4 linked regions of the Homo sapiens genome follow. The protein of the gene in region 1 purifies or fractionates together with the protein of each later gene. This does not show direct contact. Each region holds a gene or a part of one and is shown in the gene's direction. Other genes may lie near its edges.

What was found.
Region 2: the proteins of RP2 (region 1) and XPO7 purify together in Homo sapiens (affinity purification with mass spectrometry; 3 studies listed by BioGRID and IntAct, with this or other methods). This does not show direct contact.
Region 3: the proteins of RP2 (region 1) and MTARC2 purify together in Homo sapiens (affinity purification with mass spectrometry; 4 studies listed by BioGRID and IntAct, with this or other methods). This does not show direct contact.
Region 4: the proteins of RP2 (region 1) and USP24 purify together in Homo sapiens (affinity purification with mass spectrometry; 3 studies listed by BioGRID and IntAct, with this or other methods). This does not show direct contact.

The regions. Positions count from the first base shown.
Region 1 is NC_000023.11:46,832,578-46,840,072, forward strand, and holds the start of RP2 (protein XRP2), read left to right. Parts: upstream 1-4,465; 5' UTR 4,466-4,523; coding exon 4,524-4,625; intron 4,626-7,495. UniProt on the Homo sapiens protein: Acts as a GTPase-activating protein (GAP) involved in trafficking between the Golgi and the ciliary membrane.
Region 2 is NC_000008.11:21,999,649-22,006,681, forward strand, and holds the end of XPO7 (exportin-7), read left to right. Parts: coding exon 1-26; intron 27-2,463; coding exon 2,464-2,624; intron 2,625-3,570; coding exon 3,571-3,669; intron 3,670-4,254; coding exon 4,255-4,382; intron 4,383-5,346; coding exon 5,347-5,440; 3' UTR 5,441-6,937; downstream 6,938-7,033.
Region 3 is NC_000001.11:220,744,108-220,751,327, forward strand, and holds the start of MTARC2 (mitochondrial amidoxime reducing component 2 isoform a precursor), read left to right. Parts: upstream 1-4,214; 5' UTR 4,215-4,424; coding exon 4,425-4,696; exon of another isoform or gene 4,697-4,708; intron 4,709-7,220. UniProt on the Homo sapiens protein: Catalyzes the reduction of N-oxygenated molecules, acting as a counterpart of cytochrome P450 and flavin-containing monooxygenases in metabolic cycles.
Region 4 is NC_000001.11:55,205,365-55,212,364, reverse strand, and holds part of USP24 (ubiquitin carboxyl-terminal hydrolase 24), read left to right. Parts: intron 1-7,000. UniProt on the Homo sapiens protein: Ubiquitin-specific protease that regulates cell survival in various contexts through modulating the protein stability of some of its substrates including DDB2, MCL1 or TP53.

The DNA.
Region 1 (7,495 bases):
CACCATGTTGACCAAGCTGGTCTCAAACTCCTGACCTCAAGTGATCCACCTGCCTCGGCCTCCCAAAGTGCTGGGATTACAGGTGTGAGCCACCGTGCCCGGCCAGGACTGTCTTCTGAGAAGTAACTATATCACTTCTGTGGTCAAGACTCAGGGGACCCAGAGCCATCTCTGGAGCTTGTGGCCAGGTGTAAACCCACAACTCAACATTTTAATATAGATGAATAGATACATCAAGCTGAACAGGAAGGGCAGCCTTCTATAGAAAAGAAATCACTAGAATATAAATAGCAGGAGGAGCACAAGCAGAACAAGCAACCAACTTCTGCCTGAACTCTTCAGAGTTAGCGTTCCCTTTTCAGGACCTGCTTCCCACCCATATCTGTAACACCCATGTTTGGAATTCGCCCCTGCAGCTGCAGCAATGGGACCAGGGGTGCATACCAACCTAGAGCCAATCTGTTATTGACTGGCCAGCAATGTATATGATTATCTCCCTTGAGAGTCTGAGACTGTAGCATGCCCTTGGACAGAAAGGCCATGAGGAATCAGGGTGGGATAGCTGTTGTCAACCATGTAAATGCTGATGAGTAAGTAGAGAGCTGGTTTGCAAAAATAAGTAGTGATGAGAATTCATGGGGACAGGTGAAAAAGAGATGGGGCAGAAAAGAAAGAAAGAATAAGAGAGAAAGAAAAAGGATGAGACAGCACTAGTATTAGCTCTGTTCATTAGCTTTCTAGTCCCCAGTTCTTAACATTTGATTTAATTTTCTTTTTGTAATTTTGTTTTTGGTCAAGAGTGATGGTAGGATGGGAATGAACAGAAAAGGGACTTTATCTTCACTTTTAAGGGTCCCTGAAAAGATCACTCTTGGATATAGGTTTTATTGTAGATTTGAGCTTTTCTCATTAATGAATACTTCAAAACAGTGAGAGTTTCAGAGGTTGTTTCTCTAGAATTAGTTTTGTTATATTGTTTGTTCATTAAGAGGAATAGCATCACTGTGGGACAGAGCTCCCATAGGCATCAGAAGGCCGAGGCAGATACTTATTTCAGATGAATTAGAGAGGAACAAACTTAAGGCAGGAGGAGGCACTGGGAAACACAGGATGTGGATTTTTCCAGTCCCTGCTCAGCCACTCTCATCGTGACCACAGATTCATCCCTTCACCTCTCTGGATCTCTGCCTCCTCTGCTACACTAAGTAGTGGTCATAGTTATATATTTATATCTGGTCACAGATGTTTTATAATCATAGACCATAGATTATAAATATAATAATAGATTATAAAATATCGAATGAGGGTCTTATCCAAAAACATCTTCACATAAAACTTTCATCTCACTCTGAAGGAGAAAAAGTGTGCACTGGGTAAAGACTCTATTGCCTAAGATCTGGAACTTAAATTTGCAGTAATTTCTAATACTTAAGCACATGTACTTTTCTTCCCGATTGTGCAATAAAGGACGGGAAGTAAAAAGGGGAACATTCTTTATGTTCAAATTAAGTCGGCCGGGCACTGTAGCTCACGCCTGTAATCCCAACATTTTGGGAGGCCGAGGTGGGTGGATCACCTGAGGTCAGGAGATCGAGACCAGCCTGGCCAACATGGTGAAACCCCGTCTCTACTAAAAATACAAAAATTAGCCAGGTGTGGTTTTGTGCGCCTGTAGCCCCAGCTACTCGGGAGGCTGAGGCAGGAGAATTGCTTGAACCTGGGAGGTGGAGGTTGCAGTGAGCTGAGATCATGTCATTGCACTCCAGCCTGGGTGATAAAGCGAGACTCTGTCTCAAAAAAAAAAAAAAAAAAAAAAGTCAGAGGCTCATTTAGGATACAAACTAGATGTGAATAAGTATGGGAAATTTAAAAGATAACCAAATTTGAACCTGAAGTGATCAGCATTTGATATCCTACTGAGATGTCAAAATACTGTTTCTCAGAGAAACTGACTTACCTTTCTTTTCTATTACATAGGCAATGCATGTGTATTGCAGTAAAATTCGACCCAAGTATAACAAATGTTTATATTTAGTGTATATATCTTTAAATATATTCTGACGAACCCTATGCCATTTGCTTAGAACAGATCTGATCGTTCATATGCAATGCTTATGTCCTCAACGAGGCTATAAACTCCATGAGGAGAACCCCTTTACCATAAATCCACATGCCTCCCACCCCCACAGTTTGGTCACTTTCTTTGGGAAGGGATGGGGGAAGTTTATAAATGCTTCCTTCACTAGCACCCATGCATGCATTCATTCATTTGACAAACGTTGTATTGAGCACCTAGTATGGACTTGGGCCAGGTGTAGGAGATTCAAAGGTACATCCCTCCCCTCAGCTTTCCTCCCCACTGCCTTTTTTTTTTTTTTTTTTTGAGACGGAGTCTTGCTCTGTCGCCCAGGCTGGAGTGGAGTGGCGCCATCTCGGCTCACTGCAACCTCCGCCTTCTGGGTTCAAGCTATTCTCCTGCCTCAGCCTCCCGAGTAGGTGGGACTACAGGCGCCCGCCACCATGCCCGGTTAATTTTTGTATTTTTAGTAGAGATGAGGTTTCACCATATTGGCCAGGCTGGTCTCGAACTCCTGACCTTGTGATCCGCCCGCCTTGGCTTCCCAAAGTGCTGGGATTACAGGCGTGAGCCACCGTGCCCGCCCCCCCCGGCTCTGGTTTTTTTTTTTTTTTTTTTTTTTAGACAGAGTCTCCCTCTGTCGCCCAGGCTGGAGTGCAGCGGCGCCATCTTGGCTCACTGCAACCTCCACCTCCTGGGTTCAAGCAATTCTCCTGCCTCAGCCTCCCGAGTAGCTGGGACTACAGGCACACGCCACTACGCCCGGCTAATTTTTGTATTTTTAGTAGAGACGGGGTTTCACCAGACGGGGTTTCACTGTGTTGAGCAGGATGGTCTCGATCTCCTGACCTCATGATCCTACCGCCTCGGCCTCCCAAAGTGCTGGGATGACAGCCGTGAGCCACCGCGCCCGGCCCTGCATGCCCTTTATGACATACCTTTTAGGCCAGGCGCGGTGGCTCATGCCTGTCATCCCAGCACTTTGGGAGGCCGAGGCGGGCAGATCACCTGAGGTCAGGAGATCGAGACCAGCCTGCCCAACATGGTGAAACCCCGTCTCTACTAAAAATACAAAAATTAGCCGGGCGTAGTGGCAGGCGCCTGCAGTCCCAGCTACTCTGGAGGCTGAGGCAGGATAATCACTTGAACCCGGGAGGCGGAGGTTGCAGTGAGCCGAGATGGCACTGCTGCACTCCAGCCTGGGCGACAAGAGCAAAAACTCCATCAAAAAAAAAAAAAAAAAAAAAAGATATACCTTTTTGATCTCAAGAAAGTCACAGTTCAAATAGGGAAACAATACACAATTAACTATTTTACTAAGTACTTGTGCAATTTTAGAGCCATATGTGAAAGTCTTAAGAAAACACAGAAGCAGCCTGGGGTGCGGTGGGTCCTGCCTGTAATCCCAGCACCTTGAGAGGCTGAGGCAGGATGATCGCTTGGGCCCAGGAGTTCAAGACCAGCCTGGGCGACATAGCAAGACCCCATTTCTACAAAAGTAAAAAAAAAAAAAAATAGGTGGGCATGGTGGTGCTTGCTTGTAGTTCCAGCTACTCAGGAAGGAGGCTGAGGCAGGAGGATCGCTTGAGCCCAGGAAGTCAAGGTTGCAAAGTTGCAAGGTTGCAGTGAGTTATGATTGTGCCACTGCAGCCTGAGTGACATAGCGAGACCCTGTGAAAGAAAAAGAAAGAAAGAAAGAAAGAAAGAAAGAAAGAAAGAAAGAAAGAAAGAAAGAAAGAAAGAAAGAGCACAGAAGAGGATTGGGAGGTTATGGGGTACAATTCTTGAGGGGGTGACCCTGGCCAGGCGATGAGAGGGCGGTAGGAAGGGTGATGAGGGGAGAAGAGGATTTAGAAATACAAATTTCAGGGTCTTCTTGTGTCAGCGGGAATTTCTGTCCCTCACAACTTTCATCATAAGATAAATCTAATGTTCAACTAGAGATCTCTCCCGCGCCTTGAACTTGCAAATTTATGAATCAGGGGCAAAAAAAACCCGGATACCGAGCCTGGCCTCCCACCAGCTAGAGAACCCACCAAGTTCCAGGAGGGGCGGGGCCGAGGGCGGTCCGTGCCACAGCTGTGGGCGGGGTTGTCCGTGCTTGCGCCAGAGCCGGCCCGCCCCGCCGCCAGGGGCTGTCGCAGGAGCCAGGCGTGGATTGGTATGTGGGTATGTCGGCCTCTCTTCATAGGCCGCGCAGGATTGCTCGAGAGGCTTTGATTGGCTCAACAGGCGCTGAGCGTTCATTGGCTGCGCTGGGTCGTCAGGGCGACGAAAAAGGGGAAGGGGTGCTGGGCCTGGCGGGCAAACTAAGGCTGCGGACCGTTGGGCGGTTCCGCGGGGCGTTGTCCGGAGAGCTGCGAGGCCGGGGTTCCCAGGGTTCACGCCACACTCTAGGAAGTGCCTGAGCTAGTGAGCTGGCCAACGAGCTCCGCGGGCTGGGACCATGGGCTGCTTCTTCTCCAAGAGACGGAAGGCTGACAAGGAGTCGCGGCCCGAGAACGAGGAGGAGCGGCCAAAGCAGTACAGCTGGGATCAGCGCGAGAAGGTAATGAAAGTCGTGTAGCCGCCGTCTCAGCCTCCCTGAGCCGCTCCGCCAGGTCCCTTACGGCCCGGGACCGCTGAGGGGGCCGACCCAACTGCTGCCGCACTCTCTTGAACGCGGATAGCTGAAGTCGGGGTGCACGACTTTTTTGGGGAGCGGGGACGTGAAGTACAGCGCTAGAGAGGCCGCCCAGAGGGCTGTGGAGCTCCGGAAGGAGCCTTAGGAGTTTGTTGTCGTGGTAGACAGACTCCCCCGGGAGCTTTCTCTGACTCCGAACCCTGCCTTGCTCTGACTTCCTGTTGGAGATGATCGATTCGAGAGAGGGAAAGAGCCGAGAACGCCCTGAATCTCAAATCACCTCGTTTCACCCACCGGCAGCGTCAAGCGGGGTTTTGTCCAGTCGTCGAGTTACGTATATGGGACCGATTCTCATCTCTTCCGGGGCTTAATGTTCTGTGGCTGTTTTCTCTTTTGTCTGCCCTCCCCGGCAAATCTCTTTGGTGCCTCATGATATATTTCACTGCTGAATTTTCTCAATTACCAAGTGGACTGTTTAATGTACAGCTTTACTCCCCCTCCTCTTCCAGTTATCCGAAAGAAATAATGAATATCGCATCAGTCTTGGAATGTGTATTAAGACTGTAAGGTGAAAATAAGCGGCATAAACCAGGCAGTATTTTACTGCTGGTTTAAATGAATGAAAACGCCCTTATTTTTATTTTTGTATATAGCCAGAAACGAAAAACCTTTGAAAACCTCCATTAGTCTTACACAAAACACACTCGGTCATACATTTCATAATAGTTCCTCTTTCTACATAGTTCTCCATTTGTGCTTACTAAACTACTTTGATGGACTTATCAATTATTTCTCCCAAACAAAATGAGAGATTTTTCAAATGGGTATTATGAACAGTTAACTCTTTGCTTAAGGCAACATATCTTTACCCAAGATTACTTTATAATAAATGTATTAACGTTTTGGAATCACAGACCTTTCTGCATGATTTCCAATCCCCAGCAGAATGTATTCAGGTAAGCTCTGGTCTCTAAGAGTCAGAGTTAGGAAATTGAAAGCTTTTTGCAGCTTTTCTCAGCCCCGTCTTTCTGCCCCTACTTCTCATACACACCCTTCTTGGGTCACATGGTACCTTTATTCTCTGTTAGTCATACTCGATAGTAGCATTTTATAATGTAGGGGAAGAAAGTACTATGCTTTCTATTTCACAAGAAGATTGCACCTGCCATTTAAAGTTATCTGATGGGCGGTTTTTAAAAGATATTGTTTTCCTCAGCCTTTGGCTTTCTAACAATGTTCTTTTAGCTTGAATTGTCTGCCTTAGAGAAAGTTGCATATTTCATTTTTATTTTAGTTTTTTCTTTTGAACTCAGGCTAAATCTAAACTAAATAAAATGCCTTTTTTATTTATAGTAGTCTTGGCTGCCTATGACTCATCGTTTCACAATAAATTGTTTTACAGTTAATGTTTATTAACATAATATTCAGGTTAGTTAGGACTTCTCATGTTAATCCTTCTTTTAGATAAGTGTGTGTGTCCTGTGATTTTTTTTCTTCTTTTGCCCATTGGCTAAGTAAATGCATTGAGAAATATAACATTGGACACCAACATCTAAGCTTTTTCCCCACAAATGAGTGTGTAATAAACTTTCAATTGTAGAAACTGTTTTGAGCTTACAGAGAACCTTTTTTTTTGAGAACACTACTAAGTTCTGTAGTTGTAGAGTTGTAAGAGATGTTATTGGATATATAAAATAAGCTCATGCTTCTGAGTGTGTGTATAATAAAAGTTAAAATCTTGATCAACTCAGCCAATCAAAATGAGAATTTCTAACCAAATGAGCATTCTGAAAAAAACCCCAGTTTTAAAATATTTTGGACTGTTGAAGAGAATTACCAGCTTACATTTTGAGACAATGCAGATACCACATTTCCCAACATAGCTTTTTCTTTTTAGTTTTTTTTTCTTTTGGAATTACTAGGAATTCTTTCTAAGTTGCCTCATTTTGATAGCTTGTTAAATTTTATACAATTTAAAATATTTTTTTCTAGGGCCAGGCATGGTGACTCATGCCTGTAATCCCAGGACTTTGGGAGGCCAAGGCTGGTGGCTCTCTTGAGCCCAGGAGTTCCAGACCAGCCTGGGCAATATGGCGAAACCTCATTCCTACTAAAAATACAAAAATTAGTGGGGCATGGTGGTGCACACCTGTAGTCCCAGCTACTCAGTAGGCTGAGGTGGGAGGATCACCTGAGCCTGGGACTTAGAGGCTGCAATGAGTCATGATCGGGCCACTGCCCTCCAGCTTGGGCAACAGAGTGAGACCCTGTTTCCAAAAAAAAAAAATAAATAAATAAAATATTTTTTCCTAGTTCCTTGCCTCCCGTGAGGTTAATTTGGGCTAGTGTGCAAATGTTCTGTATTAGTCCAATGATACGTTTACTGAGCATGGCCTTGCTTGCTCCTAGAAGATTTCAGTTGTACCTTAAAAGGAACAGATTGCAAATACAGCCCAGAGAACATAAATGAGATATGATGCATGCATATTAATAGAAATGATTTATATTAAAAGTTTAGGCTTCTGGAATGTGGTTATGGATTATAGCATATACAGTTTTAAAGTTATATCAGACAATTACCATTCAACTTGTAAGACTTTTACATGTAAAAACAAAATGGGTTGCCTGAAAAATTTCCTTGCAGCTTAGAAAAGGGTGTTTACATTTTTCCTTAGGTTGTGTAATCAGAGTATCTTTTTTTGATGTTTTCTTTTTGAGATGGAGTCTGGCTCTGTCATCGCCCAGGCTGGAATGCAGTGGCGCGATCTCGGCTCACTGCAACCTCTGCCTCCTGG
Region 2 (7,033 bases), on another chromosome or scaffold:
CATTTCTGAAGGACTTACTGCACTTGGTAAGCACCTGAGGTGGGTGGGTGAGTTGGTGGGTTTGTTTTTTACCACTTAACTAAACAGAAAGAGAGAATCTTGCCCCAGTGTCCAAAAAGATCACCACTGCCTTGGGGGTTTGGCCATAACAATAGAGTATATAATGCACAGCACATGCTTATCCAGCACACACTCACTGATTCCCTTCCTAAGTACAAGGCCCTGTGGAAGCACTGAGGATACGGTAATTAACAGCATATAGTCCCTGTCCTTAAGGGGCTTATCTGGTGGGTAGAACAGACACATGAACAAACAACTGCCTGTTTACCATACTTACCACTTAAACATTACAATAGGGGTGAGTACAAAGTGCTACACAAGCCCTCAAGAATACCTAGACTCTTGGTTGTGAGGAAGTCAGGATCAAGGAAGACTGGCTGGAAGACTTGGCATCAAAGCATAAACCTAAAAGCTGGACAGATGTTACCCTGGTTAGCCAGGGAGGGTTCCTAGCAGCAGAGACAGCAAGCACTTGCACCTGTAGGCAAGAAAGAACCAGGAAATCCAGATGGCTGGCACACTAGTCCAGAGGAGTTAGGAATGAAATGAAGCTTTAGAGATAAGCAGGAGCAAATCTGGAGATCATGAAGGGGGCCCGCCTGTAAGCCGTATTAGGCTGTTTGAATTCTGTCCTGAGGGCCGTGGAAGCTGGGGAAAGGTTTCATGCAGCTAGCTCCATAAGTTTTTTCATCCTAGTCCATATGGTTTCTGTCAACCATTTTGTTTCTAGGCTACCTTCCAACAATTTTTTTTTTTTTTTTTTTGAGACGGAGTCGCTCTGTCGCCCAGGCTGGAGTGCAGTGGCGCGATCTCAGCTCACTGCAACCTCTGCCTCCCGGGTTCATGCCATTCTTCTGCCTCAGCCTCCCAAGTAGCTGGGACTATAGGCGCCCGCCACCATGCCTGGCTAATTTTTTTGTATTTTTAGTAGAGACGGAGTTTCACTGTGTTAGCCAGGATAGTCTCAATCTCCTGACCTCATGATCCGCCTGGCTTGGCCTCCCAAAATACTGGGATTACAGGCATGAGCCACCGTGCCTGGCCCAACAATCTTAGTAGGTATATGTGTTCAGAGAATAAAACACATTTTTATATTAGGCTGAGCAAAACATAAGTAGGAGGATTAAGTCAACTGCCAAATAGTGATGATATGTTGCAAATACACTTTTGGATTGTCAACTGTGGTGAATTATCCATGCCTCTGTGCGACTTTGATACACATTTACTTCTATCAGTCTATCAGGGTGCATAGCCGTATCTAGTACAGTCCAATCAAGGTATCAGCCCTTGCTTTGGAAGACTTTTTTATGTCTTATTGAAAATACAGGGACCTGGCCGGGCGTGGTGGCTCATCCCAGCACTTTGGGAGGCTGAGGCGGGCAGATCACAAGGTCAGGAGCTCGAGACCAGCCTGGCCAATATGGCAAAACCCTGTCTCTGTACAAAAATTAGCTCGGCGTGGTGGTGTGTGCCTGTAGTCCCAGCTACTCTGGAGGCTGAGGCAGAAGAATCACTTGAACCCGGGAAGTAGAAGCTGTGGTGAGCCGAGATCGTGCCACTTCTGCACTCCAGCCCGGGCGACAGAACGAGACTCCGTATCAAAAAAAAAAAAAAGAAAGAAAAAGCAAGTAGAGGGACGTTTGCATAAACTATCAGTCCCGTAGGAATCAGAGACTTGTTTACTCTTTTAAGGGTTCAGCCCCTTTGTCCTTTGGCCTTACCTCATCAGAGTTCTGTCCACAGGTTGTGCTGTACTGTTCCCTTTGTAAAGACGCATAGATGAGTCTGCAGCTCCCCCCAGAGATGCTTTGGAGATAAACAGATAATACAGCATACCGTGTTCTAACAAACCATAAACATTCAGGGGCTACGTCATTCTGGGTTTAATTACATCCCACTGGTAACTCAGAGCATAGGCTCATACCCCAGGCTTCTTGGATTCTAATCACAGCTCCTGCAATTACTAGCAGTTGATCCTTAGGCCGATACATAACCTCTCCTAATTCTGGTTTCCTCATTTGTAAAACAGAAAACCTAATTCCTGAGTTCTTGAGAGGATAAATTAGAGATAACACCTATAAAGTACTTAGCACAACATCTGGCACAAAAGAAGCACTTGCTGAATCAAACTATTTGTTATTTTGTGTGAGGCAGAAGATGTACGTACATCCACAACACATTGAGCCGATAATTTCAGTATTCTTTATTACCACATACTCACTTTCAAACTTAGAAATTGAGCCCTACTGTACAATGAGGTTAAGAGGTTAACAGGAGTCATCTTGAGCAACCGCCTTGGTTGAATTGGCCACGGTACCCTAATGGATCTCACCCAAAGATAGTCCATATTTGTCCAGGCCACCATCAGCAGCTCTGTCCTACCCCTGCCTTTCTTTCTTGCAGACACCATGGTATGCACAGGCTGCTGCTCCTGCCTGGACCACATTGTGACATACCTCTTCAAGCAGCTGTCACGTAGCACCAAGAAGAGGACCACACCCCTGAACCAGGAGAGCGACCGCTTTCTGCACATCATGCAGCAGCATCCAGAGATGATCCAGCAGGTAAGAAAGTGGAGGCTTAGGAGGCAGTGATGGGGTGTCCGACAGAGGAAGGACCTCTGCAAGACAGGGGAGCCCACACACGATTAACATGACATCTCATCAGGTTCCTGCTGCTGAGATGAAGTCCGTGTCTTAAAGTTGCAGTGGATTTTGAGTTTGCCAAGTAATCACTGGATGTAGAAAACGCTCAGGTTCTGGATTATTCTTCTGAGTGTCACAGTGATCCCTATGCCCTGGACCTGTCTCATGATCACTATCCTCTTTCTGTGAAAATTACTTTGCTCACCCACTGCTATAAATAGAGCAGGAGTTAGCAGCATCCAGCTTTCTAAAGGCTTGTGTTCCTGTTTACAAAACAGGAAGAAGAATGCAAGACAGAAGGAAATAACTGGCCACAGAGAGATCAAACCATATGCTTGCCCTTATTTTATTTGTATGTGCCTTGAAGTAACTTACAGAAATACATGCTAGATGAAAATAGATAAGGAAATGGGATCAGTAATTATTGAGATTTTAGCCAGTCTTACCTTTGTCCACACCGTTCTCTAAAGAAGCAGTGAAATAATTCAGGACTCCATTACATTCACAAGATGTCATAAAGCTGTCAACTCCGAGTACCTGGAAGGGATCATGCAAGGTGGTTTTGCTTACTGTAATTTTGTTTACGTGACCCCATCCCATTCCCCACAACTCAGGGTGACCTGGAAAGATCCATTGGTAAGTGAAGTTCAAACCAATTTTAAGAACAAGAAAGGAAATGAATATCTTAGAAGAAAAGGTAACCTTGAAATAGAAGACTCAGATGAAGCTTCACAAACTATTTGTCTGATTTACCCTATACAGAAAAGGCCTTCAGCCTAATATACTCCTGTATTTGGAATCTGTCGTTTTATCTTGGGTAGCAATACATTAGGTCACTGCCTGAAATTCTCCATTCCATTTTCAGATGCTGTCCACGGTGCTGAACATCATCATCTTTGAAGACTGTAGGAACCAGTGGTCTATGTCCCGACCACTACTTGGCTTGATATTGCTTAATGAAAAGGTGAGAGAGCCAGCTCCCTGGTGCCAACCCAGAAGCAGTGGCAACCACGCACTTGGTATCACCAAGCCCTGGGAGAAATGTGTATAGAAACACCCCACGGTGGTGAAACAGGGAAAATGGGTCATTTACTGAGCAAGTCCCATTTGTGCTTTCAGTATCACATAATCATTTAACTGTTAGAAGTCAGCATGTGTGGTAGCTCACAGACACAGGATAAAGGAGTGTTTCCCCTAGGCAGTAAGAGAAACCTTTCAAGGAAATAATGTACCTGGGTATCAGAGGACCTAAGACCTAAGTTCTAGTTCTAGCTCTGCTATAAACAAGTCTTGAGATTCTGGTAAAAGAAAGGTCTGGATAAGATGACCCTTTTAAAGTGCTTTACAATTTAAAAATTCTTGATATTCTTAGTAGGATGAAGCCATATTATCCCACAAGTGCTTGCCTGAATTTCTTTTTTAAGGGTCCAATTTTAGTAGACATTCCATTCCTCCTTAGAGAAGAACATTCTTCAACCCTGCAGATGACGGAGGGCTAATCTGCCTTCCCCTGCTTCTCTAACCTTCTGTTCCACTCCTTGCCCCACAGTATTTTTCTGACCTAAGAAACAGTATTGTGAACAGCCAGCCACCGGAGAAGCAGCAGGCCATGCACCTGTGTTTTGAGAACCTGATGGAAGGCATCGAGCGAAATCTTCTTACGAAAAACAGAGACAGGTGAGTATAAAGCGTCCTGCCTAGAAATCTCAGACAATTGCTATTTTTCAAATCAACGAAACAGGCAGTTGCTTTAAAGTCTTTGACATCTGTGTTTGGAGGCCATCTAAAGCAATGCAATGCAATAGAAAAGTGAGCCATGTTAAACAGGCAAAATTCATTTTAATAATATATTTTATTTAACCCATTGTATCTAAAATATTGTATCAGTGTGTAATCAGTATTTTAAAATTGTGGGTTTTCACATTCTTTTTGTACTACATTTCCAAAATCCTGTGTACTTTACATTTAACAGCATATCTCAGTTCATACGTTTTCATCAGAAATACTTGATCTGTATTTAGATTTCATAAATTTACAGTTGACAAAGTAGATTCCTGTAATACCCAGATTGTTTCAAACACACCTAGGGACTTTCCAGTAACTGCATTGAGTATCTGGGCTTTGCAATTAACTTTTAAATTTTATTTAATTTTAATTAATTTAAAACAAGGCATTTTAATTTAAAATTAAGATGCAGTTGGGGAGCTGAATGTTAAATTGTATTTAATTTGGATTCATGTTCTCAGTCACACTGGCCATAATTCAGGGGCACGGTAGCCATATGTGGTTAGCAGCCGCCCTATTGGACAGCATAGCACTGCACCACCTGGTCTTGCTGCATTAAGAAATGAGATGGCTTCATTGGCTTACTGCCCTCACGTGTGAGGGCAACTTCCTACTTCTGTCAGTGAGATTTCTTTTGTGCTGCCATGAGCCCAAGGTAGCCCTCAGGGCCCCAGATTTGACCAGATCTCTAAGCCAACTTTTCTCTTAGAGTCTTAAGACTGAAATTAACTGATCTTTGAAACAGAACCCATCAATTCATACATTCTACTTCCCATGCTTTAAAAAAAAAAAAAAAAAAGGCAAATACCTTTCCCCCCCACTCTCCTCCCCCAACCCACATGCATCCTCTCTGCAGGTTCACCCAGAACCTGTCAGCATTCCGTCGAGAAGTCAACGACTCAATGAAGAATTCCACTTATGGCGTGAATAGCAATGACATGATGAGCTGACACCTCCTTGGACTCTACCTGTACAGAGCAGCGTCCCTTTGGTTTGGCCCAGAGGGGCGAACAATTGCAAGGGAGAGGGCCTGGCTGATCCTGGCTCTTTTCTCCAGGGGTGTGGGGAAAATGGCAAAGGTCAACTAGCTGCTTCCCCAGGGAATAGGGGTGTGAGTACACTCACTAGGGGGCAGGGCGCTGCTGGTTCCTGGGGGACTGGGTGGGAAGGGTGGTGGGAGGAGATAAGAGATACAAACTGAGACTCCAGCCTCTCCTCCTGGGGCCACCCAAGTGGGGAGAACCCCTAGTGTCCTGCCACAACCTGCCTTGTATAAACATGTACATTTTTTCATAACATTTTGAACAAGGTTTATATTGACTCAAGTTTAAAAACAAAAAGTGTGACTGAAAAATTTTTACAGAGTCTAGTGCACCAATGCTGATGTGAGGGGTTGTGTATGCGAGTGAAGAAAATGTGTATTCTGGTGGCCTGAAGCTTTACTGGACAAGGATGTGTGAGAGTGCAGAGATATATTTAGTGACACAGTAGAGAGGCAAAAAAAAAGCTAAAATTCCAAATGTATATTTTTTCGTATTGCCCTGTCCTCACCCAGAAATGATCAATTCCTGTTACTGTATTAACCCTTGTTATTAGGAACTCTAAGCCATGCCAGAACACCGTCCCTCCCCTTGGACCGTGTAGATTCTGCCCTGGGTCCCTAGCCCCTTGCAGTGATAAATAACTCCAGCTAAAAGTGTTTGGTGTTCTTATCTCCACCCTCTTTCCTACTTTGCTTACCCTCATCCTCAGACAGATGCCTCTTGCTTTTAAAAGTTGGATTTAACGACGTGTTGTAGGGTTCTTGGTCTGTGTGAAGGCAGAGACCAGAGAGAAGGAAGTGAGCCCACTGCTCTCCTGGGAGCAATGTGGGTGAGTCCACCAGAGGCCCTGCTGTGTGTGGCCAATAAATTTTAGTCTTCCCCAGCCCTCGAGGCAGTGTGTGTGGATGTATGCGTGTGGATATTTATATATGTACCCTGCACTCATGAATGTATGAACTGGAGGAAGTTACTACAGTGGAAGGGTTCTTAATAACAAGGTCTACCTAGCATGAAGTATTTAACATTCTCCCATCCCTTAAAAAATATACATTTTTATAAAATGAAAACCATAATAAATGTTTTGAATATTAAAAAAAATAATAACCTACAGAGGAAAATTAATGGAGACAGCTATTTGCCTTGTACTTTTTCCACAATTGTTGCTGCTAGTTGTACACATCTCTAGTTCAGCTCTTGCCCACGGGACACTCATCAATTAGGTTTTATTTTTATTTCTTTCCTCTACCCCCAGAAACAAGCCTGTTAATTTTTTTTCCTTCTCCTCTGGCGACTGTGTGATGAATCCTTTCTTGCGTGATCAGGTTGCGGATAGACTTGTAAGGGTGTTTGCTGCATACAGTGTAAGCATTGTGACCGCCAATAAACTTCAATGGTTTCTACTGACCTGGCTTCAGCAATCATGTCCAGTGTGCGTCCAAGGACATGTCTCACTCAAAACACATGAAGCTGTGTGAAACATTCTTTAAAAGCCCGTGAATG
Region 3 (7,220 bases), on another chromosome or scaffold:
CCACCATGCCTGCCTCATTCTCTCTTTTTCTGTTGTTTTAAATTTTTTGTAGAAACAGGGTCTCATTATGTTGCCCAGGCTGGTCTTGAACTCTTGGGCTCAAGTGATCCTCCTGCCTCAGTCGCCCAAAGCACTAGGATTACAGGTGTGTGCCACTGGGCCTGGCCTAAGGGGACCTTTGATTAATGTTTGGCCTGCATCAAACTGGGATGTAAGTGAGAAATAAACTTTTATTTTGTTAGAGCATTGAGATGTTGAGGTTGTTACAATATTTTAGCCTAGCCTGCGTCATGAGATTTGTTATATGGGTTGAAGGTTGACTATCCTCACTGCCTGATAATCTGATGTGCTCATCTCCCCAGGAAAGACAAACTGCTACATGGCCCTGATGAATACTTCCATTGGCTGCTGGGTACTCACCTTCCTGAAGAGGACCTGGCTAAGCAAGGTAATATTTGGGTTTTAGGCTTCTTTTTTTCTCTGGTTTCTTGGTTGATATTTTAATTGACAGAGTTTTCTTTATCTATGTCAGTGCCTCTAGGCAGACAATGATGTCTTATTCACTAGAAAGATTTTTCCTAAGCAGAAGTTGCCAAAATATGACAAACTAGGGGAAAAAGTTATGACTTGGGAAGGCATGATAAAAGGGTAATTTTCTTAATTTATAAAAGGATCTTATAAATTAACAAAAAAATAGATAAGTTGATTCAAATCAGAAGGGAAAAAAGATATGCAAACAGCCAATTAGACTCATGAATCCTCAACCTTTGATATGGTTTGGATCTGTGTCCCCAACCAAATCTCATGTTCAATTGCAACCCTCAGTGTTGGAGTTAAGGCCTGCTGGGAGGTGATTGGATCATGGGGCTGGTTTCTCATGGTTTAATACCATTCCCCTTGGTGCTATCATCCTGAGAGTGAGTTCTCATGAGATCTGGCTGTTTAAAAGCATGTGGAACCTCCCCCCTCTCTCTGGGTCCTGCTCCTATCATGTAAGACATCCACTGCTGCTTTGTCTTCCACCATGAGTAAAAGCTCCCTGAGGTCTCCCAGAAGCAGAAGCCGCCGTTCTTCCTGTACAGACTGCAGAACTATGAGCCAATTAAACATTTTTTCTTGATAAATGACCCAGCTTCAGGTATTTCATTATAGCAGTGTGAGAATGGACTAATACAGCCTCTCATCACCCCTCACTAATTCTACAAATGAAGATGCTGGGCTGCAAATGTACACATTACTGATAAGGAATTTCCCTGCTCCCCTGAAGGCACCCCCAACCCCAGCATTGGTGAAGCTTAAACAGGGCAGGCTATGATAGATAATGGCTGGTGAAGACAGCAAAGACTTGGCAGCACTCACCATGGCAAAGTTCCTCACTTGATGTCTATCCCCATCATTTTGCACATGAGGAGGTGGAAGCATGGAAAGGTCAAGTTACCCATCTATCTAGGTAACTATTTCTTCTTTGATGTCTCAAAGATACCTCTCACTCGCTGTTCACAATAGGCTCATCATCTTTTTTCCCAGACTATCTTCTTCTCTTGAATTCTCTTTTTTTTTTTTTTGAGACGGAGTCTCTCTCTGTCGCCCAGGCTGGAGTGCAGTGGCGCGATCTCGGCTCACTGAAAGCTCCGCCTCCTGGGTTCACACCATTCTCCTGCCTCAGCCTCCCAAGTAGCTGGGACTACAGATGCCCACCACCATGCCTGGCTAATTTTTTGTATTTTTAGTAGAGACGGGGTTTCACTATGTGAGCCAGGATGGTCTCGATATCCTGACCTCCTGATCCGCCCACCTCGGCCTCCCAAAGTGCTGGGATTACAGGTGTGAGCCACTGTGCCCAGCTTCTCTTGAATTCTTAATCTCTGAGAATGGTACCCCCATCCCACCCCAGACTTTTATGCCACAGAGCCAGGAGGCCCCGTGGGCTCTTCCTCTCCCTCTGGCTCTGTGTTCTGTCATCACTATCTCTTGTTAATTCTGTCCCCTGACCATCTCTCCTAACCACATGTCTATCTCCAGCCCCACTGTTATTTTTCCTTGATTTGGAATTACATCAGCCTGAACTAGGGCATTTGCAACTCATCTAACCATCTTTGGTGTTACTCTTTCTCAGAGCAGCCAGAATGGCCTTCCTAGCACCCAAGTCTAATCATGCCAGACTGTTGTTCAGAATTCTGAGGTGTCTCCACATTAAGTAGAGATAAGATGCCTGTTGATCTGACCTCTGCCCACCTGTCCTGCCTCAACTCCCGCCACCTGCTGCATGCACAGGTACATCCTAATACAGCTGGATTGCTGGTGGTTGCCCAAACATGCCACACTCTCTTGTTCCTTCCATTTTTTCAGGCTATTGCACGTGCTGCTCCTTTTGCCCAGAATCCTCTCCTTTACCCATCTCCAAGCCCCTCCTCATGTTCAAGTCTCAGCTCCAAAGCTCCGCCCTCTGAAAACAGCACTGTCCTGAGATTCAGCTGCTCTTTTGCCTCTGCATCCTCTGCATCTTGACCTTGCTTCTCCTCTGACATTATCCTCTAGACTTGCAGGGGAGGTGTCAGTCTTCTGGGGAGTCAGTGAACTGGATGGAAGGGCAGCTTCTTCTAAACTTTAAATCCCCAGTGCCAATCTAGGACGAAGCCTGGTGAATGATCAATATCTATGTGGTGAAAGAAAGAGATGATTAATCAATAAGACATTTGCCCTGTCTGGGAGCTCACGTATAGCGAGGCGATGGCTTTGTAAGCCCCTCACTCTGACAGCAGGCTTGTGGGCAGGGAGGACTCTGACCCTCCTCAGGAGTTGGGAGAGGCAAAGGGGGTCAGCTACAAGTGTACACACATCACATTCACCACACCATGCTTAAAAAACAAATCCATAAGTCGCAGCTGCCAAGCATGATGTAAATGTATGGGGATTGAGGGACTAATTCTGCTGGCCTGAGGTTTTTTCCTGGGTGGGGAGAGATTCAGGCCCTGTTTTGTCTTTCACTTTTCACAAGGAACAGCCAAAGGGAACCTGGCTCCTCTGGTTCTCCATCCTTCCCGGAGTCTCTTCCCACACTCCAGAACGGGCCCCTTTCTCTGGAGGTGGCCAGCCCAGATTTGGGGGGTGGCCCACTGGTTGGCCTCCTTAAACTTTCCTAGAACTGTGCCACAGTTTAAGGGACAAACTTTTGAAAAACAGAACAACAACAAAAAACTTGAAAGACTTCAAACCTTAATTTGTCTGAGAAAATCCACTGTTAACCCAATAGCTTGCTTGAATGGAGGTGTTAAAGATCAACAAAGCCAGACATTAGTTAAACCATGAAAACAGATTTTACTCAGTAACTACTTACAGTAGGAGAAAAAGCTGATCATTCTCATTTGTGCATAGCAGAATGGGCGTTTTAAAGGGTGAAGGAGAGAATAGGGCCGGGAAGCTAGCAGGGGATCAAGTGAAAAATCATGAAGGGGCGGTCAGTATTAATGACGGGCAGCTGTGCCTGGAGCTGGCCGTTATGAAGCTGGGATTCTATCCTCCCACAGAGACTGGGGGACAGAGGCCTATCCTCCCCATGACTGCATTTCAGAGCAATGGCTTTCAGGTCCTTGAGAAAGACACTTCTGAGGTGTAGGCGATACATATACATCTCAAAGCAACAGAGAAAGGATTCACAGTTGTAAGCCCTTTTAAGAAAATATCCTAAAAAAGGGAGGTCAGGGGCTTTACCATCGGGTGTTGGCTAGAATAAACGGGGAATTCTCCTGGCTGCCTTGAGCTTTCTCGGGAAGACATTTTACTGGGGTCGAGGTTAGGCGGCAGCGGAGGGTGGGGGACCTTGAGTCATGCTCCTATAAGCCACGCTAGAGTTCCTCGTCTTTGAGTGCAGAGGTTTAGACTGTGTCTTTGTGTGCAGAAAGTCCTGCAGTTCTCACAGCGACCTGCCAGAAAAAGTCGTTCCCAAATGTTTGTAAATCCTCCGTTGGGCAACCCGCCTTCACGTTCTGCGGTGATCTTGTCGAGCGACTAAGCGTGCAGTATTAGCAGAGAAGGGGGTGGCAGAGTGCTGGCGCTGAAGGTCATGTTGCATGGGTAACTGTCGTGTTGTAGGGGCGGGGAAGAGGGAGGAGACACTGACCACCCCAGAGGCCGCCCCATTAGCTCGCTTGCTTTGGGCGGCGTCGCTCCCACGGCGCCCAGGGTACCCCCGCCGCTGTCTGCCTGTCTTCCTCCATTACCGCGCAGGCTTGGTCACCGCATTAAGGCATTCCCGCTCTCCGCGGAACTGCTCTGCCGTCTCGGCGGTGAAAGTGTGAGAGGGTCCGTAGTTGGGTCAACTTTGACTCCTCTCGCCTGCCCGGATCCTTAAGGGCCTCCTCGTCCTCCCGGTCTCCGGTCGCTGCCGGGTCTGTGCGCCGGTCCGCGCCCGCCCTCGCTCTGCCATGGGCGCTTCCAGCTCCTCCGCGCTGGCCCGCCTCGGCCTCCCAGCCCGGCCCTGGCCCAGGTGGCTCGGGGTCGCCGCGCTAGGACTGGCCGCCGTGGCCCTGGGGACTGTCGCCTGGCGCCGCGCATGGCCCAGGCGGCGCCGGCGGCTGCAGCAGGTGGGCACCGTGGCGAAGCTCTGGATCTACCCGGTGAAATCCTGCAAAGGGGTGCCGGTGAGCGAGGCTGAGTGCACGGCCATGGGGCTGCGCAGCGGCAACCTGCGGGACAGGTACAGCACAGCGCGGGCGCGGGGCAGCGCGGAGCCTGCCTGGGATGAGGAGCGGGGGGGCAGGTGGGGCCCGATCTATCTGGGAAGGACTATAGAGGTTTGCCACCTGAGTTTCTGGGCTGACTGTTGGGCCGTTGGTCGTTTATCTGGGAAGGCCAAGTTCATGCCAGGTTTATTTTTGGTAAAGTAGGTAGGGGCAATCCCTTGCCCTTCCCTAGACGAGAGATTCCTCCTCTGTAACAGGAGGGGGTCTGACCTGTATCTCCAAGTCTCCTTAGCTCTAAAGTTTGTGATTCTATCCTAGTATACCAAAGTAGAAAAATAAAGCTATTGGCACTAGAAAGCAGCAAGAAAGAAACCAAGTGTTGTTCAAGGACATTGGCTTAGGCCTTGCTGGGCCTTGTTCCTCACATTTCTCCAATCCTGGGGGTGCCCTGGAGGCCTGATACACTTTGATGAAGGATGAGCAAGTGGCATGGGGACTCTGGGGCAGAGGTGATACTTGCCATTAAGGGAATAGTGTCCCCCCTTCTCCCATAGGCAGAGTTGTTCACAGCCTGGAACTTTGGGACTTTTGGGCCTGACACATAGACATTTCATACTTAGGATTAAGATGCCTTCTTCTTTTTTTTTTTTTTTTTTTTTGAGACAGAATCTCACTTCGTAGCTCAGGCTGGAGTGCAGTGGCACTATCTCAGCTCACTGCAACCTCCATCTCCCAAGTTCAAGCAATTCTCCTGCCTCAGCCTCCCAAGTAGCTGAGATTACAGGTGTGCGCCACCACGCCCGGCTAATTTTTGTATTTTTAGTAGAAACGGGGTTTCACTCTGTTGACCAGGCTGGTCTCAAACTCCTGACCTCAGGGAATCCACCAGCCTCGGCCTCCTAAAGTGCTGGGATTACAGGTGTGAGCCACTGTGCCCAGCCAAGATGTCTTCTTATCTGGCCGAGATGGTTTAGCTGTGGGCCTGTGTCCGAGGGGAGGGAGGTTTGCAAGTTGATCATTCAAGGATTCCTCTAGCAGAGAGCCACCTGCATCCCTGTGTTCACTCCAGGACACGCGGATGCACTGTTTTCTGAAGACTGCTGCCCTCTTAAAGAAATGTGGACTTCCATGGTGTTGGAAAACTTCAGAGAGTCTTAGAGAAGTGTTGTGTACACAGACCATATGAATCATGGGAGGATTTTCATTCTCCCACCCTTACCCCAGATTTCTTATCCTGGAGAGCTTTTTCAACTATAACTTCCTGAGATTCCCATCCCAGGACTACGGAAGCAGAATCACCAAGAGTGGGGCCAACTCGTGTAGAATGTTTAAATCTCCCCCTGGTGATTTTGATGCTATAATTAAAGGATTTTATCCGAGACCATGAAGAAGAAGAGGATGTTTAGAGCTTATTCAAATATGAAGGATAAGAAAAGCCTTCCTATTACTGGAAAGACTTCAGGCTGTGTGGGACTGGACACCTTCCAAAAAACTGGGAGAACCAAATTCTCACGATGCATGTCCAGAGAAAATTAGTGTTGCAGGCTAGGTTGCACTACTTCCTTCCTCGCTTGAAGGGTTGGTTTCACAGACAGTTTCCAGTTCTAATCTGCGTTTCCTCTGATCACCTGAAGAACGGTTTCTTTCCCACTTCTCTTTGTCACTGCTTTGCCATGACTACTGCAACCATGGAAAGAAAATACGTGTCCTTTGCCTGTGCTTTTTGCTCCCACTGGCATCCTAAAATAAATACAACTGTATTACCTTTCCCTTGTTTTAAACAATAAACGCTTAGGATGGGGTGGGGTGATGTGAAGCCTGGGGTAGAGGGAAAGGCAATGAAATTAATGTTATTCAGTGTTAAAATGCAGCAGACACTGAGCTAAATCCTGTCGCATAGATTAGCATATTTAAACCTCATAACAATCTTGTGGGCTAGATAGTATTATCACCATTTTGCAAATAAGGAAACAGTATCAGAATGAAGGAGTATCCCATCCAAGGCCAGAAAACCAGTGTGTGCTGTGGGGATGTGAACTCAGATCTGTGTGAGTACAGAACTTATGCTGTTTGTATGAAACCAGTGCATGATATAAAACTATAAGGATTGCACTGAGGATCAGGAGACTTTGGGCGAACTTCTACAAAGTTGTCTCATTTGCAAAAGAATGAGGTTGAACTTCATGGTCTCTAAAGCCCCATTTTAACTACATTTTATTTATCAAAGCATAATTAACAATTTGAAAGCAGGCTTGCTGGAGAGAACTCTGTTTGATAGCCGCTGTCTTCTCCACCTGACAATTTAATAACACTACTACAAATGTTCCTAGAGTTCAGGGAAAGGCCTCATTTAATGAATTCCATTCTGAACCTGTGTCTTTGGAACTAACTGTTCCAAGGAGCTGGGATTTTCCTCTGGAAGTGCTCTGGGTCTCAAATTTCTAAAGGTATTTTGTTCAAAGCTCTTAGTATACTTGTGAACACTTGGCTTGAGCACCCTAAGCATTGAGTGTTTAAAGTCCACCTGGCAGAATGCTG
Region 4 (7,000 bases), on another chromosome or scaffold:
CTGCTCAACTCATGGTTTTAGGATTAAATTTGTTTGGTAACAGTATGGATAGTAAGGAGAAATAATGAGGGAAAGACATATTTTAAGGCTACTGTGCAATGATGTGGTGAGCACCAACCATTAAGAATCGAATAATGGGTAGAATATAAGGTGAATCAGATTTTTTAAAAAGAAGCATACTTTAGAAATTAATAATTAGTGCAGCTCCCTTGTTTAACAGATGCACCCTTTCGGGCCCCAAAGGGGAAGTGGCTTGTCCCCACAGAGTCAGTTAATAGAAGAGGTGGGGCTAGTACTCAGGCCCTTTTGCTTGAAGTCCTGCACTCTTTCGGGCTCTCTTTCAAAGGAAAAAGGAATGGGACACAGTAATGGGTTAAAGGGAAGGAAGAAGAGTAAAAAAACTGGGTGAAGATTGTCAGCTATTATATAGTTAATCCTTTTTATTTCTAAAAACTGAGTACCTTATTTTAAATTATATACATTTCTATTTGCTGCACAGGACATTTCAGTGTCATTGTCTTCTTTAAAAATGGGAAAAACAGAATAAAATCTAATTGATTAGAAAAGAAAGAAATGACTTAAGTTTTTTTATATTTGTAGTTTGGGGATAGCAATGGTTTTCTCTTAATGCCTTCCTGTCCCAGGGGCAGGGAGTAGAGTGTTGAACAGAACGTGGTGTTTACATTCTAGTGGGTCTTAGTCCAAGCCTCTCATTTTACAAGAAAAGACTGTCCAAGGTCATGTAGCTAGTTAGGTAAATCAGTTTGAGGCCCTGCTGTAATTAGGGTTTGGTTTAAAAATTAATATTTGAACAGTGAAAGCTGTTAACTTCCGGTTCAGTAGAAGCAAGGAGAATGCAGATAAAAAAGACCCAGATATCTAGCAAAACACACAACTGCATAGAAAGCCACCTTGTTAATATCCTCCAATTAAGTAAAGATAGTGTTTTGCAGAAGAGATGTGTTTGGTTCTCACTAGTATTGTTGGATGTAAATGTTCTTGGTCTCTGGGTCTGGAAGGGACTTTGAGAAGCTGTCCAGTTTTGATTTTGAATAGCATTACTTCAAAATCATTCCACGGCACATAAGAGTCTGTTCTATTATTAAAGAGAGTGAGCTCTCACAGCTGCTCTAAATAACTTATTCTGATTTTTAACCACCCCCCTGTCAGAATTCTTCACTCTTTACTGCATGGCTAATGTAAACTCTGGCCTGCCAAGTGCGTACCAATTGGTTCTGTTCTCTACACAACAGGAAGAGTTGGGCCTTTGTAATCTCTCCAGGGGATCAGTAGAAATCTGAACCAGGTATCCTGTGCATCTCACAGAACTTAACAATTATGAAATGTACCTTATCCATAAGGAATACCATCAAACATTAATACTATAATGAATACCTTATTCATTAAGTTTGTCTTTAGAAAATACTAAAATGGAAGTTTTTGGAAGGAGATTTCATATTAACTGAGGAAATACCTTTCTTAGCTGTCTAGTGCTGTTAATTAATATTCCCAGAAGTGACATTTAATACTGTGATCTGATAAACATTGTGAACTCCTTGTTTTGTTCCTGTTTTAATGTGGATGTTCTTTCTGGAGGTATTGTTTTGTCAGGAGTACTTTCAAGATTTCATTGCTTTTTTGTTTTTTTAAGTTTAGAGCCCCAAAGTTGGTCCTGCTGTTAATATATCTAAGTCACATAAAAATAAGAAGCATATTAATTTGTAGTTCCTTAACTTACCTCATTCCTATTTCTCTTGTTCCCCTTTGGTAGTAAGTGGTAATTATAAATGGATTAAAATTGTAATACTGTCAATGTGTATAATTAAGGTTTATGGTAAAATTCATGTTATTCTTTTCCTAAAATACAACAACCCTAGTATGAGTGTGGAGTAAATATCAAATGAGTAGCTTTTAGTTAACTATTAGTGATTTGGTACATGACCTGTGGTTTATGAATTACTGTGATTTGGTAAATAAAAAAAGGCCCTTTAAAGGCTTTAGAGTAAAAAAATGAAATAATTTCCCAAATCAGTTGAAAGTAGATGAAATAAAAATAGGGAATTAAAGATGAATCAGCATGGCCTAATTTTTAAATAAGAATTTCTTTCTGATCCAGTATATGTATATATATCTCCTTTGGGAATTAGGTCTGTGAGTTAATCTAATGGTTGGAGTCTCACCTTGTAATTACCTGCCCATTCACTTTTAGAATGAATGTAATTTGGCATGAAGAGAGTACCTTTCGTGTGTCTGTGAGTGTGGTTTTAGTGAAATCATAGTAGGTTGTGACAGCTTTATACAGCATAATAATATTGTTAGCTTAAATTTTGAAAACAATTTCAATGTTAGAAAAGCAAATGTTGTAATGTTTTAGCAATTTGAGGAAAAGGTTTCAACATTAATAGAAAAATATGTCCATATACTTAAGTATTTTTATACTTACTGCCTACAATATCATATACCATTTACTTGATCTGAGTGTGAAGGAGGGCGTTTTTTACTTTTAATAAGAAAATGTTAAAAAAGATTTAGTAGAATCTGAAATCTGGAGTTCAGTTTTCCTGGAAATTTTCCTTATATGGAACCACAGAGAGAAATAAGAAGTAAACACATAAGATGGAACCATTTCAGAACACCTTCGTACATGCATTAAAGCTCATGCACTCCACTCACTAAGCGCTCTAAGTGCACTAAAGCTCATGCATTTCTTTCATTTGTGTTTAAACTTAACAAAAAATACAGTTCAAACAAGTTTCAATATTAGGTTTCCTATCAAATTAGAATGGTTTTATGGCAATCTAAACACAAGGTGATGAGCTCTTAGAGACAAGCTCATTTGACAATAGTGAGAAGTGACAGTAGCAGCTTAGTGGTCAAGGAGGGAACAGGAAAGCTTTAAAAGCCGACTCAACCAAATCACACTAGCCGATTTGTGTAGGGTGATTTGAAACAGCTTTATTATGTGTTTCATGGCCCTGAGAGGATAACTGTGTTTTCAATGATGTCACAGTCAAGAAGAGGTTCCAGTGTGGTCTGCTTAAGAAGGGTCAGGAATGTTTAATGTATTTTAGAAAGGTTTTCCTTTTAAAAAGAAAAAAAAAGAAGAAGTTGGATGGATAAAGAAGTAGGCTTCAGACACCTGGAAAATTCAGATGTGAGGACATTTCAGTCATGATACTAGATTGCAGAGGTACGACTAAGAGAGTTGTGCTTCATTTTCAAAAGAGTAAATGTTTTTTTCCTCCCTTTTTTTTCTAGGGAGTTTTACTTCCTTTTTTAAGCTTGTATTTTTCATTTTCTTTATCATAGGAATTTTTATTGTTTAGTGTTATCACATTTTTCAGTCACAACTGACATAAAAATTTTCGTTAAGCTCATATTGATAGTAGGTGACATTATTGGGTTTTTTTTGTTTTGTTTTGTTTTTTTAAGATGGAGTTTTGCTCTTTCACCCAGGCTGGAGTGCAGTGGTGTGATCTTGGCTCACTGCAACGTCCGCCTTCCAGTTTCAAGCGATTCTTCTGCCTCAGCCTCCCAAGTAGCTGGGATTACAGGCGCCTGCCACCACGCTCTGCTAATTTTTGTATTTTTAGTAGAAATGGGGTTTCACCATGTTGGCCAGGCTGGTCTCGAACTCCTGACCTCGTGATCCGCCTGCCTCTGCCTCCCAGAGTGCTGGGATTACAGCCGTGAACCACCGTGCCCAGCGCTGTTTTTTGTTTTGTTTTATTTTTTTGAGACAGAGTGTAGTTTTGTCACCCAGGCTGGTGTGCAGTGGTGCAATCTCAGCTCACTGCAACCTCCGCCTCCCAGGTTCAAGTGATTCTCCTGCCTCAACCTCCTAAGTAGCTGGGATTACAGGCATGCACCAACCACATCCGGCTAATTTTCATATTTTCAGTAGAGACGGGGTTTCACCATGTTGGCCAGGCTGGTCTTGAACTTCTGGCCTCAAGTGATCCGCCAACCTCAGCCTCCCAAAGTGCTGGGATTACAGGTGTGAGCCTCCGCACCTGGCCAACATTATTGTTTCTGTCGATAATCTCTGTGGTGAGTTTTGGCAAAGTATTTTATAACCATTTTGTTTTTATAGTATGTTTACAGGGTCACTTGTTTGTCTGCTAGTGAGAAACCTGGCTCCCACCATTGGTAGCTTCCATTTTTTATTTCTCTGTGTGTGTTATGTGTGAGAAGTAGAATCCACTGTTTTAGAGGTGATTACCTTAAGCTGGTTAATGGAATATATAGCCGTAGATTTGATGTTTTCATTTTCTCTGAAGAGCTAACACAAGTAAGTTTAAATATTATTCTTACAATCTTTCCAGAAATTAAAATGCTTCAGCCATGATACAGCAGTCTTTGGAATCTTTTAAAGGGCTGAGTTGAAGATGTGATTGTTCTCTTAAAAAATAAATAATATTTTAGGTACTCACCAGGGCTTCCCACTTCTAAAGATAAACACTAACAAGTAGTTGTTCCAGCACACAATTTGCTTTCCTGTAGCATCAAGCCAGTTATTTGTATTGCAAAATTCATTTGACATTATTTATTATACTTTCACTTAAGTTTATATCAAGAATATTTTATAAAACCATTACTTACTAAGCAATACGATACAGTTGTCCCTTGATAGCCATAGGGGGCTGGTTCCAGGATACCACCCCACCATGCTCAAGTCCCTAGTGTTTCCATCTAACCTACACACATCTTCCCGTATACTTTAAGTCATCCCTAGATTACTCATAATACCTAATACAATGGAAATGCTGTGTATGCAGTTGTTACATCATATTGTTTCTTGTTTGTATTTTTTATTGTTGTATTCTTATTTTTAATTTTTTCTTCAAATAATTTTGATTTGCAGTTGGTTGAATCTGCAGATATGGAACCCATGGATACAGAGAGCCAGCTGTACTTAACTCCTGTATCAGTAGGTTTCCAAAATTATTTCTGAAATTAAAATCTTTGTAAGGAAGACTTGTTGGTCAGAAATTCAAATCCAAGACTTTTCAGTTTCTGCTTCATGTGCTGTTAAAACCCAGCTTTTCATAAACAGTTCAGCATTTCCTTTTTTTTTTTTTTTCCCCTTTCCATTTCTCCTATATTGTCAATTTTGGTTGAACATTAATTGCTTTTTGAGAACTATAGTTGGTAATCTATAGTGTGAAGCATTTTGGTAACAATTTTATAATTTTGTTTTGGTTTTTGAGACAGGGTCTCACTCTGTCACCCAGACTGCAATGCAGCGAGGCGATTTTGGCTGATTGTAGCCTCTGCCTCCTAGGCTCAAGTGATTCTCCCCACCGCAGCCTCTCAAGTAGCTGGGACCACAGGTGTGTGCCAATTTTTGTATTCTTTTTTGTAGATATAGGGTTTCGCCATGTTGCGCAGGCTGGTCTCGAACTCCTCAGCTCAGGCGATCTGCCTGCCTCAGCCTCCTCAAGTGCTGAGATTACAGGTATGAGCCAGTCACCATGCCCGGCCTTGGTAGCAATTTAAGATGTATTTCAGATCCTAGAAAATATGAAGGTACTCTGTGAATAGCAACACTATTATTAATTGTCTGTGTTATTCTAGACTCCTTGCTCTCTTTTTTATGGAATAGCCTATTCTTATCCTAAATATTTTTCATGCCCCTTCCCTCTATCCTCACTGTTACTACTCTGGTTTTGGCTCATGCCCCCCCGACCCTTTTTTTTTTTTTTTTACTGTTTTTCTCTGCCATTCACTGGCACAAGAAATGATTTCTCTAAAATATAAGTTTTAATTGTGGAATAATCTTGGTAAAATGGTTTTGTGGTTCCTCATCTTGTATAGGTAAAACCTAAACTCCTTTTCTTTCAAGGTCTCCAGACTTACCTATCTGGTCTTATCTCCTGCCTTCCTGTTCTAAGCTCTTTTGCAGTTTAGCTGCTATTTTCCCATTCTTATTCCTACTCCCTGATATCTCTTCTGCCTGTCTAACACTAAGTCGTTCTTCAAGGTTAGCTCAATTGCCACTTCTCTGTACGGAACACTTGTCTTACACCACTACACTCTCCCACTGCATTTTGCATGTACACCAAGTAAAACATTTCAGTTAAAAAATTTTCTGTGTTTGCATGTGTGTATTGATAATTCCCATTAGGCATTGAGCAGGACTATTTTTATCTCTGTGTCCTTAGTACTCCTGGCTCACAATAATATTTAATTGGATAGAGAGATGACTCAGTGGTTGGATGCAAAGAAAATCTTAAATGAAATGAAATAAAACGTCTCATGGTATTTGAAAGAGTATTCAGCCCAGGATTTGGGAGACTGTACCTTTCTGTTCAGGGTTCTGTTTCTTGCTGTTGTTTGGCAAGTCAGTTTTCCTTTCTGAAACTCCATTTTCTCCTCTATAAAATGGGCATCATCTTAGACTAGATCTAAAATGCTTAATTTTTTCATTCATTGACTCCTTTAAGAAATTAAGAGCTATGGGGCCTCTCACGTATACATGTAAATATGCATACTTAATTTTGAAAATAAGCTTGTGCTAAAATATTAATATTGTTATTTTGGGGTGATGGGGCTATACTCTCCCTATTTTTCCGTGTTTTAGAATTTTTCCTTCATGAGTTTTTAAAAAGTATATAAACTTTATTAAAACTAAAAGCAAACCAAACTGTGTTTAAATGAGAGTAGTTAAAAAGATTAAAGTTTTGCATAATTCTTAGGAAAATTTTGCAGACTCTAAAATTATTCAAAAACTTTGCTAATGAGGAAAATGAAATATAAAAAAGATTTAATTTGCTTTTTATCTAATTGAAATACAGAAAAAAGTATACTGCTTCCTAGCACATCATTGGGAGCTATTTTTTTAAATCTAGAATTCACATTTGACTATTATGTTATATAGTTATTTCTAGCTTTAAGAAAACTGGCTCAGAAGATGCAATTCAGCAGGACTTTTCGAATTTGAGTCACAGTTGAAGCTTTAATGGAGTTTCTATTTAGTTGCCTTTCCTGCCCCTTCTGT